5 linked regions of the Homo sapiens genome follow. The protein of the gene in region 1 interacts with the protein of each later gene in a pairwise test. Each region holds a gene or a part of one and is shown on either strand. Other genes may lie near its edges.

What was found.
Region 2: the proteins of CUL3 (region 1) and CAMK1D interact in a two-hybrid assay, tested with the Homo sapiens proteins (one large-scale study listed by BioGRID and IntAct).
Region 3: the proteins of CUL3 (region 1) and DYRK4 interact in a two-hybrid assay, tested with the Homo sapiens proteins (one large-scale study listed by BioGRID and IntAct).
Region 4: the proteins of CUL3 (region 1) and KCTD2 interact in a two-hybrid assay, tested with the Homo sapiens proteins (one study listed by BioGRID).
Region 5: the proteins of CUL3 (region 1) and RHOBTB1 interact in a two-hybrid assay, tested with the Homo sapiens proteins (one study listed by BioGRID).

The regions. Positions count from the first base shown.
Region 1 is NC_000002.12:224,505,362-224,508,886, reverse strand, and holds part of CUL3 (cullin-3), read left to right. Parts: intron 1-1,883; coding exon 1,884-2,029; intron 2,030-2,754; coding exon 2,755-2,931; intron 2,932-3,525. UniProt on the Homo sapiens protein: Core component of multiple cullin-RING-based BCR (BTB-CUL3-RBX1) E3 ubiquitin-protein ligase complexes which mediate the ubiquitination and subsequent proteasomal degradation of target proteins.
Region 2 is NC_000010.11:12,762,028-12,765,552, forward strand, and holds part of CAMK1D (calcium/calmodulin-dependent protein kinase type 1D), read left to right. Parts: intron 1-3,525. UniProt on the Homo sapiens protein: Calcium/calmodulin-dependent protein kinase that operates in the calcium-triggered CaMKK-CaMK1 signaling cascade and, upon calcium influx, activates CREB-dependent gene transcription, regulates calcium-mediated granulocyte function and respiratory burst and promotes basal dendritic growth of hippocampal neurons.
Region 3 is NC_000012.12:4,607,186-4,610,710, forward strand, and holds part of DYRK4 (dual specificity tyrosine-phosphorylation-regulated kinase 4), read left to right. Parts: intron 1-141; coding exon 142-202; intron 203-2,969; coding exon 2,970-3,099; intron 3,100-3,525. UniProt on the Homo sapiens protein: Possible non-essential role in spermiogenesis.
Region 4 is NC_000017.11:75,053,709-75,057,233, forward strand, and holds part of KCTD2 (BTB/POZ domain-containing protein KCTD2), read left to right. Parts: intron 1-3,525.
Region 5 is NC_000010.11:60,885,186-60,888,685, reverse strand, and holds part of RHOBTB1 (rho-related BTB domain-containing protein 1), read left to right. Parts: coding exon 1-474; intron 475-2,455; coding exon 2,456-2,574; intron 2,575-2,857; coding exon of another isoform or gene 2,858-2,875; exon of another isoform or gene 2,876-3,500.

The sequences.
Region 1 (3,525 bases):
AGGTTCATGCCATTCTCCTGCCTCAGCCTCATGAGTAGCTGGGACTGCAGGCTCCCGCCACCACGCCCGGCTAATTTTTTGTATTTTTATTAAAGACAGGGGGGTTTCACCGTGTTAGCCAGGGTGGTCTCGATATCCTGACCTTGTGATCCGCCCGTCTCAGCCTCCCAAAGTGTTGGGATTACAGGCGTGAGCCACCGTGTCTCGCCAGTATCTTATTATTTTATTAAGTGTATGTAGAAATAATGATATTTAATTTTTGCATGCCAAATTATTTTCATTTACTTTTACATTCCCTTTACCCCAACATTTAAATACAATGAAATTGTAGTAATTTATGTACAACTAAATACACAACATGTAATATCTAAGCAAAACTTACAACAACATAGGATTGAAATAGACAAGTTGTGAACCATTTTGTTAGAAGTATTTGGTGTGCCACATTTACTGTAGTATGTGTCCATAGATTGTTGCATTTGTAATACCTGTTCTAAATATGGGAAACTTGGTTGTAATTTATGCTAAGTATGTGAGAAGCTATAAAATTGCCATGTGTAGGTTACTATGGGCATATATTATTAATGGAAACTAACTAAAATTTGCTGCTGAAAGTCACTGAAATAAAGTTTAGTAAAACTTTGTAAATCTTGCTTTGAAATATTTTAAAAATGTATACAACTTTAAGCTCTAAACTACTCTTAGAACTGTAGACCAAGGTAGGCAAATTAGGGCCTGCCTGGTGCACTACCAGTTTTGTTAAAAAAAAAAAAAAAATCAAGAGTATTTACACATGAAAATTTATATAAATTTTCAGGGTCCATGAAGTTTTATTTGAAACATAGTCACACTGAATAATTTATGTATTATCTGTGGCTACTTTCTTGCTACAGCGTCAGAGTAGTTGAGTCAGAGCTCTATGGCTCACATTTTAAAATATTTATTATCTGATACTTTACAGAAAAAACATTGGTCAGCCTCTGATCTAGAAACTCTTAATGCCATTTTAAAAAGTTATTGATTGTAAAACTTTTAAAATTATCATTGTAAAGTTCTGACACTGTGTTCTCCCAGTAAGTTGTTATTGCAAAGAAACACTAGACATATGGGAAAACTGTATTTTAAAATCTGTATTTTAGTCTTGTGAAAAATGATATTAAAAAATGGATAGGATCCAGAGTTTTCATTCTAAATTTAAAAAGTATAGTGAGATAGACCAAATTTTGAAGTACAGATATTGGCTTAGGATGCTACCTGGGAAACATTAGGGATTGCTCTCAGGAAAATATTGAAGAAGTGGTATTTATATTATACATTTCATAAAAACTTTACCTGAGGTGTAATGAAGTAAATCCTAGTATAGTTCATTTGATTTGTTTTCATGATTATCAGTTAAACCTTTGGAAATACCCATAAGACTTAAACTGGCTTTAAAATTTCTTCCTCATTACAGGGACTACCAATTACCTCTTAATTAGTGACCCTTTTTGTAGACGTTTTGTAGTGTCATTAGGTCTGCATTAGAGTTATGTAGGATAAAGTATTTATGAACTCAAAACTGCAGTTGCCATGTTTTTGTGACATTACTTGTTTATTATGGTTTTTGACATCTCTTCCATGTAAATTTAAATTTGCTAGGACATTTAATTGATGGTTTCAAAGCATCTCATCTAAAAGTTGTGTTTTATAAATTACAATAATAACCATTAACTAGCCTACTTCTTCATGTTTTCATATCAATATATGTATATTTTTAATAGTCATGTGGTCAGCAAATGGGGGTAATGGAGAAATAAGCTTCTCTCAGTATTATAGCGTGAACAGAGATTCGTGTTTTTTTCTTTAATCTTTAATGTAGCCAATTTGTGTTTTCTGATTTGTAGACCTTGGTTGCATGTACAAGTTATTTAGTCGTGTGCCAAATGGTTTGAAAACAATGTGTGAGTGTATGAGTTCCTATTTGAGGGAGCAAGGTAAAGCTCTTGTTTCTGAAGAAGGAGAAGGAAAGAATCCTGTTGACTATATCCAGGTAAGTAAACCCAGAAGATTCTCTGTGTTTATGATAAAGGCATTTTGACAAGTGCTAAAAAGGCCACTTTTACCATGCTGTGTATTGTGTACTTTCAACTTAATTGTCCCAGTAGTAAATTAATATTTGTAATTATCCTACATATTTTAGGATTTTGCAAGGTGTGCGTATTTATATCAGGGAGCTAAAATTCAGCTGCTACTTTTCATTTAACTTCTTTGATGAAGACCTTGTTTAAATAGCCTCAATAGTGAATGTGAGGTTCTTTGGTATGCCTTAGTGTTTGTATACTGTAGTATATTGGAAAAAACAACTGGTTTAAGTATTTTTTGTTTGAAAATGTTTTGTTTTCAAGGAGTACTATGAATAAATTATGTGCCATGTTTTGTGTTTTAACATAATCAGCTTTTTTTGGTACATTTTTTAAGCTAATTTTTTTCACTGGCTAACCCATTCCATCAAGACAGGAGAATGAGAAACAGTGAGGAGGTTCTTTGGTTCGTTTGCATTGTATTAATACATATATGGAAGTTATAATACTTCTCTCATTGACATTTTTAATAGAGGCTTAGATATAGGCTTGAAAATAATATCAAAACTGTAAGTTTAAAAATGAATATACATGTTTATTACCAGCAAAGTTAAGATAAACATACATGGTCATAAGTGTATTATTTATGGAAAAATTATTATAATGTGTCCTAAATTTTGTTTTTATTTCTAAGGGCTTATTGGATCTGAAGAGTAGGTTCGATCGCTTCCTCCTGGAATCATTCAACAATGACCGTCTCTTTAAACAAACTATTGCGGGTGACTTTGAGTATTTTCTCAACCTCAACTCCAGGTCTCCTGAATACCTCTCATTATTTATTGATGATAAGCTGAAAAAGGGAGTCAAAGGGGTAAGTAGTAATGCATTTGAAAATAACATTTAATTTTATTTAAAGATATAAAATTATATGTAAAATTAGGACATTTCACAGATAAAAATTAAGCATGACCCATTGCTGTGCTTAAATGGGTGCCATGGTCTATTAAAAAATATTGTTTGAAATACTTGACATGCCCAAACGTAGTTAGACATTTCACTTAATGTGTAATTGGCTTCAAAAACAAGCAACTGGATGGGCTTGGTGGCTCATGCCTATAATCCCAGCATTTGGGGAGGCCAAGACAGGAGGCTCTCTTGAGGCCAGGAGTTTGAAATTAGCCTTGTTAACTTAGTGAGACTCCATCTCTACAAAAAAAAAGAAAAAAGAAAAAAATTAGTGGCACACAGTGGTATACACCTGTTGTCCCAGAAGCTGAGGCAGAGGATCACTTGAGCTCAGGAGTTCAAGGCTGCAGTGAGCTGTGATCGCGTGACTGCACTCTATGCTGGGCGACAGAGCAAGACCTTGTCTCAAAAAAACTGAACAACTGTCCAGGTATGGTGGCTCATGCCTGTAATCTCAGCACTTTGGGAGGCCGAGGTGGGCAGACCACCTGAGGTTGGG
Region 2 (3,525 bases), on another chromosome or scaffold:
CTATGTAGACACTGAAGGACAGATGTCAAACACAATAGTACTGAAGGGTGGATGTCACACATATGGTACCAAAGGTAGGTATCAGACATATCAACTTGAGAAACAGTAGAAAGCAGTGCGGTTGACCCAAAGCTGCAATGTGACCTCATTCTAGGATGTTTACAGGTCCAGCCCCCAGAGCTTACTGCACCAGTCAAGACAAAAATTCCACCCCAGCACACATACCCACCACTCATTATAAACACGAGGATCATATCATCTTGAAGCTGTGCTGTACACAACTGTGGGAAATCAAAATCAATTTAAAGAACCAGTCATAAACATTTGTATAAACAGAGTTTCCACACCTGGCTATTACCTGCTACTGGGTATTAAGGAATAAAGTGGTGTAGCTTTTTCTTTCATAAAGACTCACTACCATGGTTTTTCTGCATGTTGTCATGTTCCATTGACCCAGGCAGTGATTCCCGAATGTTCGCCCATATCAGAATTGTCTGGAGGGCTATGAAAATAGAGACTGCTGCCCCATCCCCAGTGGTCTGATTCTGTAGGTCTCCGGTGGGGGCTGAAAACTTGCATTTCTAACAGGTCTGCCCGTGATGAGGATGCTGGTCTGGGAACTGCTCTTGGAAAACCACTGGGCGAGGATATTTGGGAATCTTAGTGGATCCCTTTGAGCCTTCATCCTCTGCAGGCTTCTTGACATCTGAAATGGCTGTGGGCGTGGTCAGCTCATGTTCGGGGCCTGGAGATACTTCAGAGGGCTAGGTAGGGGCTAGCTCAGCCGACCTGGCACCTCTGCCAGGCCTCCGGGCCTTCTCTGCTCTCTTGTGCCCCCACAAATGCCAGTTCTGTGCTTCCAGAACACATAGGCAGCTCTCTCTGAACACGTTCGTGTGGTGACCACAGGGATGCACTGTGATGGGCTAGCTGTCTGTACTTATTAGAAAAATAATTTCTAAGCAAATAAGGCATATCCAGGAGGGGCAGTGTTTATCTCTCCCTTGGAAAGGCTGATTGGCTGTATGGGAGATAATGTTTTTAATTAACCTACGTAATGCTTTTGGAGGAATCTTTGCAGCTTCCATCCTGTGGAGCCTTAAGATCACCGGGCCTGTCGTTACGTAAAGAACACTGCCATTTTAGGACCTTTCTGTGATCTCTTTTCAGAGGCACAAAGGAGTTTGATCTATGAGGAGGAAGTTGAAATTGGACTACTAAATTTGCGTAAACAGCTAAGAAAATTAAAGTTAAAACAACCTATATAACCAAGCCCAGAGCAATAGAGAGAGGATGATCGTGTTAATTTAAGCTTAGTGCAGCAATCGGAATACTGCCCCAGCCTACCTGCAAATGTACCTCCTTCTCTTCGTAGAAAGCTATGCGATGTCTTGTTGCCCTGAGAAGCTATTAGAGACAGTTGCTCTTTTTGCAAAATGAAGTGACTGAGACTGGAAGTGCCTGGTCCTGCCTCAGTGGATTAGGATTGGGTTTCTCAGCCCCTGCACCATTGGCATTCAGCCCTGGGCACTGTGGGATTTAGAGCAGCATCCTTGGCTTCTGCCCATGGATACGAGTACTACGTCTGGAATTGTTAACAGCTACAAATGTCCCTAGGCATTGCCAGATATCCATCCGCTGGGGGGCAAAATTGCCCCTAGTTGAGAATCACTGGAGTAGGAATGTGATTATGGATAACATTAACGTTACCAGAAGTGTGTTGATTCCGATCTTATTAAAGCTTATTATGTGGATTATTATAAAGTGTTGGGGTTGATATTCCAACTCAGGTATTGGCCACCAGTTGTCTTGCAAAGATGCCATAATATGCCGAAAACTTAATTTTTCCAGTGAGTCCCGGACCTCTTTGGACACCAGGAGGAATTGTGATGCAATGTGGGCCAGACCCTCTCCCTGTGGCCCCCACCCCCACAGCCCTCCTGTTGGGATCGGGGATGGGGCCTCCCACCCAGATGATACCTGAGCCTGCCTCTCCCCCACCGTCTTCCCTCCTCCCCCAGGAAAAGCCCTGCTGTCCTTACAAGTCTTGGGCCAATTAAAAGTATTGATTGGCTGGGCGCGGAGGCTCACGCCTGTAATCCCAGCACTTTGGGAGGCGGAGGCGGGTGGATTGCGTGAGGTCAGGAGTTCGAGACCAGCCTGACCAACATGGTGAAACCCCATCTCTACTAAAAATACAAAAATTAGCCAGGTGTGGTGGCAGGTGCCTGTAATCCCAGCTACTCAGGAGGCTGAGGCAGGAGAATCGCTTTAACTGGGGAGGCAGAGGTTGCAGTGAGCCGAGATCGCACCATTGCACTCCAGTCTGGGCAACAAGAATGACACTTTGTCTCAAAAAAAAAAAAAAAAACATTGATCTAAACTGTGAATGACCAGTTGATTTAACCCTCCTTGGGCGTAACTGGTCTTCAAAACAGCATTTTATTGACCCAGATGAATCTTTTCTAGGAGGGATGTGCGATGCTCTGAGCCCTTTGGCCACCCCTTGCCAGGATTATGCCTTGTTTAGCAGTGTGAAATCACTTACTCTCCTCTCCTTATCACCTCCTGGGACAAGGAAGATAAAAAATCAGAAACAACAGCATTGTCCTCTCTCTGCACCCATGATTGGATCCTTATTGTTTAGTGAAGGATAATCCCTAAACTTCCAGAGAAAACATGAACCATGTGGTCTTTATGATTCGAGCATTCCCGCCCCTTTTCTAAGCTTGACAGCATTCTTGTTTCAACTGATTGGCGACTTTACTTTCTTTTAAAACTCATTGGGGCCAGTGCGGTGGCTCATGCCTGTAATCCCAGCACATTGGGAGGCTGAGGTAGATAGATCGCCTGAGGTCAGGAGTTTGAGACCAGCCTGGCGAACATGATGAAGCCTTGTCTCTACTAAAAATACAAAAGTAGCCGTGTGTGGTGGCACATGCCTGTAATCCCAGCTACTCCGGAGGCTGAGGCAGGAGAATTCCTTGAACCCAAGAGGCGGAGGTTGCAGTGAGCTGAGATTGTGCTACTATACTCTAGCCTGGGTGACAGAGAGAGACTCCATCTCAAAAAAAAACCTCATTGGAAGCATCCTTCAGTGCACAGTTGATTTTCTTCTAATCTCCTGCTTCATCCACAAAATTAATGTCACAGTGACTCTTAACTGCCATCCCTTTCTGTGTTGTTACTTGAGGTGAAGGATAGTATTTATTCTTTAGTTTCTATTAAAGAACAGAATTATTTTGACACCACTTGACATGGTAAGGAAGGCTTTATTCAAGACCATTGCAATGCCATTGAGCTCAACTTGGAATACAGCTAGACGAGTAGGGATTTATAGCCAAAGAAGAGAGGGGAGGGGGTAGTGGATGGGAAATTAGGGGGATTTTTGCTAACCTGACCTGGCAGGATTCCTGCTAAAGGCAGGCTAAGGACTTAGACATTGACAAAGGCCCCTTTGAGTCCTCTTTCTGATTAGACCCTGCTCTCTGGCTGTCCAGTAGGTCCAGTTTTTAGCAAGAATCC
Region 3 (3,525 bases), on another chromosome or scaffold:
CTGCTACTGACCAGATGTTATTACTTAATGCTTTGAATCCTTATCTGTAGAAGGCAAAGCTTGGCCAAAGTACGCTCCACCCCTCAGCCTTTGAATCTGTGCTCCCACAAAGAATGAACCAATTGAATTATCCTTATTAAGGTGCTGGGTCTGCCGCCAGCCGGCTTCATTCAGACAGCCTCCAGGAGACAGACATTCTTTGGTAAGTCCTAGTGTGTCTCATGAGGTGTCACAGGCCTTGAAGACACCTGCCATACCTTAAGGCTCATTTCATTCTTTTCCCCTGGCCACATACCAAAGGGCTGTGATTAAGAGCGTCTTTCAGAGAAGTAAAAGATAATGAGCAGGGGAATCGGATAGCATGTTGGAGATGGGATGGGGGAGTCACAGTGGGAACAGGGTCTTGACAGTAAAAATGCTCAGGAGGAGGAGAATAGCCAGGTCCCTGCTCAGAAGAGCTATCAGCAAATATTGCAACCTCAAAATATTGTAACTGCATCCTCTCCCGGAAGTTCTCCCCACTCTCCCAAGCAACTTGCCCTCTCACACTATGCACTGTGCAGGGAAATCAAAGAGCAGAAGCTTCATTTCAAGAATAGTGGAAAATTCCATTGCTGCATTATTGTTTCCCCTGCTAAAATTCTTCTTATCCTCCAGACCTTACTGTGCCAGGTTCATTGCCAATGGTTAAGCAAGGACTTAGTTTTGCTTTGATGTGTTGTGGCTGGTAGTTATGTACGTGTCATCTGTCTGATTGTTGGGAGTAAACTTCGTCCACAGTCCAGGCTGCCCCTCTCCTCATAATTCCCAGAATTCTGGATTTTTATGATCCTCCGCCTTTCTATTTAAGTGGTCCTATACAAGATGGAAGGATGGGTCGACAAGGTATCAACTGAGGCAGGGCTTTCAACGTACACGCACCAAAAAGATGCAGCAAATCTCATACCTAAAATCCCTTTAAAGAACCACAGGAAGCTAAGAGTCCCAGATAGAAACAGCCAGAGTGGGCTGAAGGTCAGCAAAGTGGAGCAAAGCCAAATAGGAGGAAAAGGGAACTCCACAGACAGGGACTCCATGCTACCTGGAGTGACATTTCTGACCAGCCATTGTTGTCAGGTCGGTTCATGGACTCCCTCTGACCACACAATCCCAGACATTCCTGGCCCTCCCACCTCTGATTTTCAACTGCGAGCAGCTTCTGAATATGTATGCAAATCACACAATTTCTGTTCACAACTTGCTCCATCAGTAGGAAGGTCCAAAACACTCTCGTGGGGAGATCCTTTAGGATAAAAGGGTTTGGGTCATGCTGGTCAGTATGAACTGATTCAGCCATGTGGGGGTTATAATTTGTCTATTTCTGTACCATTTGGTAAAAAGCCACAGCCCTGAGCCCTGCTACAACTGCAGGCTCCCTGGCCCTCTCCCAGGACTCCTTAAACTCTCCATGATCCAAAAACCTAAAAGCTGAAGGCCAAGCAAGCAGAAGTTCTCTATGATCCTACTCCAGTGCCAGGGCTGTCTTCCATTCTGATTAGTTGGTTCCATGCCATTCATTCCAATGGTTAATTCTTTTAAACATCATCTGGTAATCATGGCTGGAGCTTTGGAGACCTTGCCTCTGAGCAGGGCAGTGTCCTGGTTGCCATAGAATGGTGACCACACATTAACCGAGCAATCTGGCGGTAGGCAAAGGATCTGGCTGGCTCCCCAGTATAATTTACACATGGAGCACGCGAACTGGTCTTTGGATCCCAAATATACTTTTTCTACCCACAACTTAATAATTCAGCCTTTTGGATTAGGCAGAGTCACTGTGGGAAGACATATCTTGAGCCTGTAACTCTGAACTCATGAGATAGCATCTAGGTGGGGACTAGCAGGAAGGGAACACAGAGCACCTTCGTAGGAACGTACTAAAGACATAGGCATGTCTACTTCATAGAGTTCCTTATTTCTACCATCAGCACTAGGCTTTAGGATGGTGATGGGGTTTTGGCAGCAATATCCATGTCTTCACTTCCTGTGAAAGAAGGAATGTTGCTGAGAACTGCATCTTCGTCAGTGTTTTCCAAACTCTATCCAAATGTAAGAATCATTTGGGGACTTGGCAAAAAAGCGAATTCCTGTGATTCTCTTCTATAAGCTATGCTATGGGAAGATTGCGATAGGACCCAGGATTCGACGTTTTTAATGACGGCTCCTTGTGATTCTTATGACAAAATAAGTTTGGGAAACACGGTTGTCCACTTCAGTTCTTGACTGTTCCTTTCCCAGGTTTGGGCTGCCAACTGCTCCTCTGCCCCGGGCGACTCCTAGTTAATACCCCTAATTAGCAGCAAAATGGTGTTGTCTCAAGGCTGGTAAGATATTATACTTAGGTGGCCCAGGTGGCTCAGGTAGTAAGAAGGGGATGGAGGGAATGACTGATGAGGGCCAGAGTGAGAAAAAACAATTACATGATCATGACTTTAGGAGCTTTGTTATTGATAAGACTGTGAGCTTGATTCTTCTTTGGTCATTGGTAAAAAGGACAATGTAGGATGAAGTGGGAGGGCTAAGGCCATGATCCAAAAGGAAATGGATATTTGTACAATTTCACAGGACCTTGTCACTTAACATTTACTTTACCATTGTCATTATTATCATTAGCATTATTATTTTATCTTGGTTGGTGTTAAGCCATTTAAATTATTTCTTTGATTTGGAGAGGAGGCAGTGGGAAGGAAGTTCAGAACATACTGAATAGTAGGAAAAAATCAATTTTTAAAGTAAATTGCATTCCTTGGGTAATCTACACATGGTTATTTCAAACTGAGTGTGTGTGTGTGTGTTTATTGGGGTGTGGCATGAGGCGAGTGTGTAAGACAGAGAGCAAAAGAGCTACAGAGGCCACTCTAAGCAGCAGCATCATGTGACCACTAAAGATTTACACCTGAAACTAAATACAGAATGTTCTATCTCTACAGATTCCAAAGGTTTTCCTAAAAATATAACCAACAACAGGGGGAAAAAAAGATACCCAGATTCCAAGGACCTCACGATGGTGCTGAAAACCTATGACACCAGCTTCCTGGACTTTCTCAGAAGGTGTTTGGTGTGAGTTTGTTGGGACATCTCTGCTTCTGGGTTTCCTCTTAAATGCTGTACTTTGACACACGTTTGCTGGTGAAAGACTAAGGCTGGGAGATAGTTATAAAAGTAACAAGAAATGCTAACAATAGAGCTTTAAAGTCTACAAATTGCTTCCACATCTGTTGTTTCATCAGACATCTCTCCCTACTGTGTGGTTGTCAGGGCAGATGATTTGCTCTGTTTTGCACGTATGGAGGTTGGGGTTCAAAGAGATTAAGTGACCTGCCCTGGAATACACAGCGTATGGTAGAGTTTGTCATCTTCCTGGCCTCAAACTGCCTGGCAGTGAGATTGTTTGCCAGTCCTAAATGTCTTCTGCTCTGTGAGCTGAAGCCAACCCCCTGACTGCTTGTTGTAATGATTTGCATACACATCCAGTGTAAACTGGTT
Region 4 (3,525 bases), on another chromosome or scaffold:
CTGGGATTACAGGCGTGAGGCACTGCGCCCAGCTTGGCCACTCTTTATGGAGATGAGCCTTTAGCATGTGATCGAGTCACATGCAGCTCCTGTGAGCCACTTGAAACCAGTCTCATGGGGTACGCTTCAGCAGCTGCTTGTGAACCATGCTTTTTTTTTTTTTTTTTTTTTTTTTTGAGACAGAGTCTCACTCTCTCCCCCAGGCTGGCCTCCCAAAGTGCTAGGATTACAGGAGTGAGCCACCACACCCAGCCTGAACCATGCTTCTAAGAACATAATATCAAGCTGCTCTTTATGATGGTGTCTTGATTTTGGCGGGGAGAGGGAGGACAAGGTCTCACTCCCGTTGCCCAGGTTGGAGTGCAGTGGCGTGATCACAGCTCACTGCAGCCTTGGCTTCCCAGGCTCAGGTGATTTTCCTACCTCAGCCTACCGAGTAGCTGGGACTACAGCTGCAAGCTACCACACCTGGCTAATTTTTTGTATTTTGGGTAGAAACGAGCCTTGTTGGCCAGGCTGGTCTCAAACTCCTGAACTCAAGCAACCCGCCCACCTCATCCTCCCAAAGTTCTGGAATTACAGGTGTGAGCTACCGCACCTGGCCTTGATTTTGATATTAACTCAGATACAGTAACAAGAGCGAAAGGGAATTTGCCCACCTAGTTAGAGGAAAGAAAGATGTTACGGCACATCTATTTCACATCCTGCCATTCGTCATATGTTTGTCGTGTGTTTGAATGGCCATAATAGCTTCTATTTGGCCCTTGGGATTCTGTAAGTAATTGAAAGTCCTTGCCCTCAAGAAGCTTGAAGTCGGCCGGGCGCGGTGGCTCACGCCTGTAATCCCAGCACTTTGGGAGGCCGAGACGGGCAGATCATGAGGTCAGGAGATCGAGACCATCCTGGCTAACACGGTGAAACCCCGTCTCTACTAAAAATACAAAAAAAATTAGCCAGGCATGGTGATGGGTGCCTGTAGTCCCAGCTGCTCGGGAGGCTGAAGCAGGAGAATGGTGTGAACCCAGGAGGCGGAGCTTGTAGTGAGCCAAGATCGCACCACTGCACCACTCCAGCCTGGGCGACAGAGGGAGACTCCATCTCAAAAAAAAAAAAAAGAAGCTTGAAGTATAGCCAGGAAAATAGACCCTCTCTTTCATGCGATTAGACTGTTTTAAGAAACTGCAACTACAGAGTTAACAGTAAGAAGGCAGAGTCGTGCTCCACCATGACTACCTGTGTTGTAGCATAATTGCCTCTTTTCCCATCAGATACTGGTAGTAGATGCTTTAGGTATAATCTATTGCAGCACAGAATTTTCCTGCCATTAAGAAGGCAGGAAAATTATTCTTTTTTCTTCTTTTTTTGAGGCAGAGTTTTCCTCTGTCACCCAGGCAGGAGTGCAGTGGCATGATCTCGGCTTACTGCAACCTCTGCCTCCCAGGTTCAAGCGATTCTCATGTCTCAGCCACCTGAGTAGCTGTGATTACAGGTGTGTGCCACAATGCCTGGCTAATTTTTGTATTTTTAGTAGAGATGGTGTTTCGCCATATTGACCAGGCTGGTCTTGAACTTCAGGCCTCAAGTGATCCACTTGCCTCAGCCTCCCAAAGTGCTGGGATTACAGGCATGAGGCACCATGCCTGGCATAAGTTTACTTTTAAAAGTAAAAAATAATGCCTTGGTCTTTCTATGTTAGATTTCATATATCAAAGTTTTCTGGCTCTAGGCCAGGTATGGTGGCTCACGCCTGTAATCCCAGCACTCTGGGAGGCTGAGGAGGGCAGATCACTTGAGGTCAGGAGTTCAAGACCAGCCTGGCCAACATGGTGAAACCCTGTCTACTGGCCGGGCGTGGTGGCTCATGCCTGTAATCCCAGCACTTTGGGAGGCCGAGGCAGGTGGATCACCTGAGGTCAGGAGTTCAAGACGAGCCTGACTAACATGGAGAAACCCTGTCTCTACTAAAAATACAAAAGTAGCTGGGGTGGTGGCACATGCCTGTAATCCCAGCTACTTGGGAGGCTGAGGCAGGAGAATGGCTTGAACCCGGGAGGAGGAGGTTGTGGTGAGCCGAGATCACGCCATTGCACTCCAGCCTGGGCAACAGGAGCGAAACTCCCATCTAAAAAAAAAAAAAGAAAGAAAGAAACCCTGTCTACTAAAAATACGAAAATTGTCTGAGTGTGGTAGCGGGCGCCTATAATCCCAGCTACTTGGGAGGCTGAGGCAGGAGAATCGCTTGAACTAAGATAGCAGAGGTTGCAGTGAGCTGAGATGGCACCACTGCACCCCAGCCTGGGCAACAGAGTGAGACTCCATCTCAAAAAAAAAAAGTTTTCTGGCTCTAACTGGAATATTTGGATGAATAACTGACACTAATGATGAAAAATTAACTCTTTTATCCACTTTATCTCCAGCAGTTTGCAAAAGTGAAGAGAAGGGCTTATTCATTTAGTTTTCTTCCATCTAGCTGACAGCTCAAAGGCTCCTTTTTGATGTTCAAAGGTGGCTTTGTAGTTGGTTTGCAGATTACCACTTGGAATGTGATCCAGTGTCACCAGTCTCTTTGCTATCTTACCTTTACGTGGTATCTTTCACTATTGTAGATATTTAATAGTTTAGACATTTTGGTAATCTAGCCTTATCCTCAGTTTCCCACATTCTAAAAAAATGATTGCTTACTATAGATTTTAAAGTACCATGAATTATGTAATTTGAAATGATTCAAGTCATGGTACCTGAACATTCTCCCTTCTTCGTCATTAGCTAATTCCTGGAGAGCATTATAAGATTTCTGTTTGATGACCGCAATTAAATTAATTAGTCTTCTAGATTCTGAAGGCTTGTGGATTTATACCCCTTTGGAAGCTTTTTTGTTCTAGGAATGTCAAGACCTTTTTGATGTTAACTATCTTTCCATCTGTCCTTTTTATGTAGTGAAACTGAAAAATGGATTTGATGTTATTCAAAGACACCCTCTTTTATACTTGTTGTATGTGGCTCTAAGATGAAGTTGGCTGTGTGTGGATTTTCGTTTTGTTTCATTTTGTATTTTTCTTTATTTTTTTGTGTGTGGATTTTCAAACATGTTACCTCCTTGAACTTACCTGTAGCCCCTCACACATGCAGGATTCAAGCCAAGCCCAAGATGTGGGCCTCAACCCTACCTTCGGTTTCATGACCTCTTAGCTCTTAGTGGCTGCCACCTAACTACTTTCCTCTGTTTCTTTTTTTTTCTTTTTTCTTTTTTTTTTTTTTTTTTTGGAGACAGAGTCTCGCTGTGTTGACCAGGCTGGAGTGCAGTGATGCGATCTCAGCTCACTGCAACCTCTGCCTCCTGGGTTCCAGCGATTCACCTGCCTCAGCTTCCCGAGTAGCTAGATTACAGGTGTGCACCACCACGCCCGGCTAATTTTTGTATTTTTAGTAGAGACAGGGTATCCCCATGTTGGCCACACTGGCCTCAAACTCTTGATCTTAGGCGAGCCACCAACCTCAGCCTCCCAAAGTGCTGGGATTACAGGC
Region 5 (3,500 bases), on another chromosome or scaffold:
ACCCAGAGGAAGAAAGGGAGGAGGGCCCGCCTAGGATTCCTCAGGCCGACCAGTGGAAGTCTTCAAACAAGAGCCTGGTGGAGGCTCTGGGGCTGGAAGCCGAGGGTGCAGTTCCTGAGACACAGACTTTGACCGGATGGAGTAAGGGGTTCATTGGCATGCACAGGGAAATGCAAGTCAACCCCATTTCAAAGCGGATGGGGCCCATGACTGTGGTCAGGATGGACGCTTCAGTCCAGCCAGGCCCTTTTCGGACCCTGCTCCAGTTTCTTTATACGGGACAACTGGATGAAAAGGAAAAGGATTTGGTGGGCCTGGCTCAGATCGCAGAGGTCCTCGAGATGTTCGATTTGAGGATGATGGTGGAAAACATCATGAACAAGGAAGCCTTCATGAACCAGGAGATTACGAAAGCCTTTCACGTAAGGAAAGCCAATCGGATAAAAGAGTGTCTCAGCAAGGGAACGTTCTCGGGTGAGTGGGCCGCGGGGCAGAGCCATTAATACCTTTGATTGTGTTTCATTGAACGTTAGCCAGACATGAGCAGGAGAAAGAAGAACGATAGCTAACATTTATACGTACTTATTTTTTCCCATGTACCTTTCTAAGCTACAGGCATTAACTTCTTTAATCCTCATCAGACTTAAAGGTTAAATATGATTGTCTCCATTTTGCAGGTGGAGAAACCAAGGGACAGAGAGGTTAGGTAATCTGCCCATGGTCACACCAGCAATAAATGGTAGAGCCAGGATTTGAACCCATGCTCTTGTGGGTATCAAAACCTGTTCCATAAACCACCATGGTACCACACTGCTCCTCAAGAGTGGATCAGGGACCCCAAGCCTATCTCCAGTGGGCTTGTTGCATACAATTCCCCTTCAGAATCTATTCTCTGACCAATTCTATTCTCCATTGACCCTTCAGCACTGACCCATGACAAAAATCAGTGATCTCAAGTCCTGAGGCCACTAAAGTCCTTGAGGCAATTTTGGTGGCCCTCCATCTTCCTACAAGGGGTGTCTCATCTGTTTCCATCCCCTCTCCTTTTCCGTCCTCATGCTCCTTGGCCCTGCACTTCTGTAGTTTTCCTGCACCTCCTTTGCCTTTGATAACTATGCCATATGCTGCCCGCAGCACCCTTTCATAATTGTTAAGCATGCTGGTGGCCCGCATCCAATATGGGTTATTGACCCATGCTTGTACTGTCTTACACTTGGACTATTTTTGTTCTGAAATTGTTCTCTGGGCTGGTGTGTGGGTGTGTGTAATTTCATCGTAAAATGTTGACTTCCTGACTTCTATTTATATGGATACCTCTACCTTTGTCTTTATCTTTTATAATCCCTGCCAGGGCATTACACATTTAGTAAGTGGTTCCTAAAGACTCAGTTCATTCATTTTAAAGCTTATGAGTAGTATTTACTTCAAACACTGGCCATTGTGTTACAGAAACAGTCTTGAAAATTAATGAAAAGAATATGTTACAAACCTACAGTAACTTAAACAGTGAGCTTTAGGTAGAGTTGATTAAATCACCTCCTCCTTACTGGAGAGGCATAATAATCAAATACAATGTGGGAGTCTCAATTGGATTCTGTTTTTTTTTTTTTAAAGCTATGAAATACGATTTAGGGATAATTGGAGAAATTTGAATATGAACAATATAGTGGATGATAATAGGGAATTATTTTTAATTTTCTTAGGTGTAATCATAGTATGGTTATTTAGGAGACTGTTGTTATTTTGGGAAAACTTGTGATAAGGTAGTTAGGAGTGAAGTGCCATGCTATCTGTAAAAAAAAAAAAGTCTATACACATACACAAAATTATACAAAAATACACATATAGCCAGGCATGGTGGCTAATTTGCCCACAGTCCCAGCTACTTCAGAGACTGAGACAGTAGGATTGCTGGAACCCGGCAGTTTAAATCCAGCCTGGACAACATAGCCAGACCCACCCCCCCCCACATCTCTTAAAAAAAACAGTAATTCGGTTACATTTTGGTATAGCATACGAGTAGAGCATATTATAAATGTAAGGTTTAATTGAGTATTAATAAGTAAAATGGTGTAAATTAAAAATATACGTAAAACAAACATGCCAAAATGTTAACAAGGATAAATGAGTGGTCATCATACTGTTCGTTCCACTGTTTTATATGCTTGAAGTTTTGCATAGCAAGGAGGAAAAAATATTCCCTCCTTTCTATTACTTTCTGGTTCAGAGAGTTTGTGCCGTGACTTTATGTGTGATGATGTCAAATACAGCATGCTGCCTTAGGTGGGAGCTGGGTGTGTCAAAGCTCAAAGATGGGGATTGACATAAAATCAGTAAGTAAAGACATGCAAGAGAGAGTAAGGGAGTCGCAGTTTGGTGGCTATGGGAGCAGAAGCCTTGGTTGAAGCTCTCAGCAAAGTTGGCTCATGGTTGTGTTTCCTCAATCCCTTGGCAGACGTGACATTTAAATTGGACGATGGAGCCATCAGTGCCCACAAGCCGCTGCTGATCTGTAGCTGTGAGTGGATGGCAGCCATGTTCGGGGGGTCATTTGTGGAAAGTGCCAACAGTGAGGTACGTGCCTTCCTAAAAGCATAGTGGTGTCTTTATGAATGTATGTGTGCCTGTGTATTTATATAAAGTGGGTAAACAGCCAGATGACTTTAATCCTTAAACTGGCTCCATGAGTGGTCATCATACTGTTAGTCATAATCATAAGGAGCTATTGCTCCTTAGTAGTGCTTGAGGGTTTGGTCACCTTTTTCTTAGATCTGCAGTTTTGAGGAGCTATTGTTTATTGGTCACTGGTGTGGGGGCACCTGGGTGCTTTACATGCCATATATCTTTTCATCCTCAGAGCCGTCCTCATCCATGAAGACAAGATCAGCTGTACCTCTTGGCAAATGTCACCAGGCATGGTACTATCAAAACCAAGTACAAGAGGAGCATGTCTCCCAGTAGTTCAGAAAGGGAAAAGAGTTCTTCAGCCACCTAAGTCCTGGGCTTAGCTATGCCCCTAACCAGACAGGGGACCTTGAGAAGCCGCATTCCTGTGCCTCAACCTCCTCATCTGCAAGCTGAGGGATGCACTAGATTGTCCTTCAGGTTACCATGTGCTACAATACTGTCTAAGGCTCTGCCCTGACTCTGCCTGTGTTGAGGGGATATGAGGGTTTGTTAACTTTAGGGCAACAGTAATGGAGCAAATGTTTACTCCCCTGAACACACCTCTCAAGGTACTTAGGTCTAGCGGAAGCAGCTACATCACTTGTCAGCCCCTGGCTCTATCTCTAGAAGAGACATATGCTTAGAGAAGAGCAAACAGCATCTTGGATACCCTGTGTCTTTGTCTTTCTTGTTGTTTTACTTTTAACTGACAAATAATAATTATTATACATAGTTATGGGGTACATGATGTTTCAATATACATATACTGTGGAATGATCAAATCGGGTTAATTAGCCTATCCATCACCTCAGATGTTTACCATTTCTTTGTGA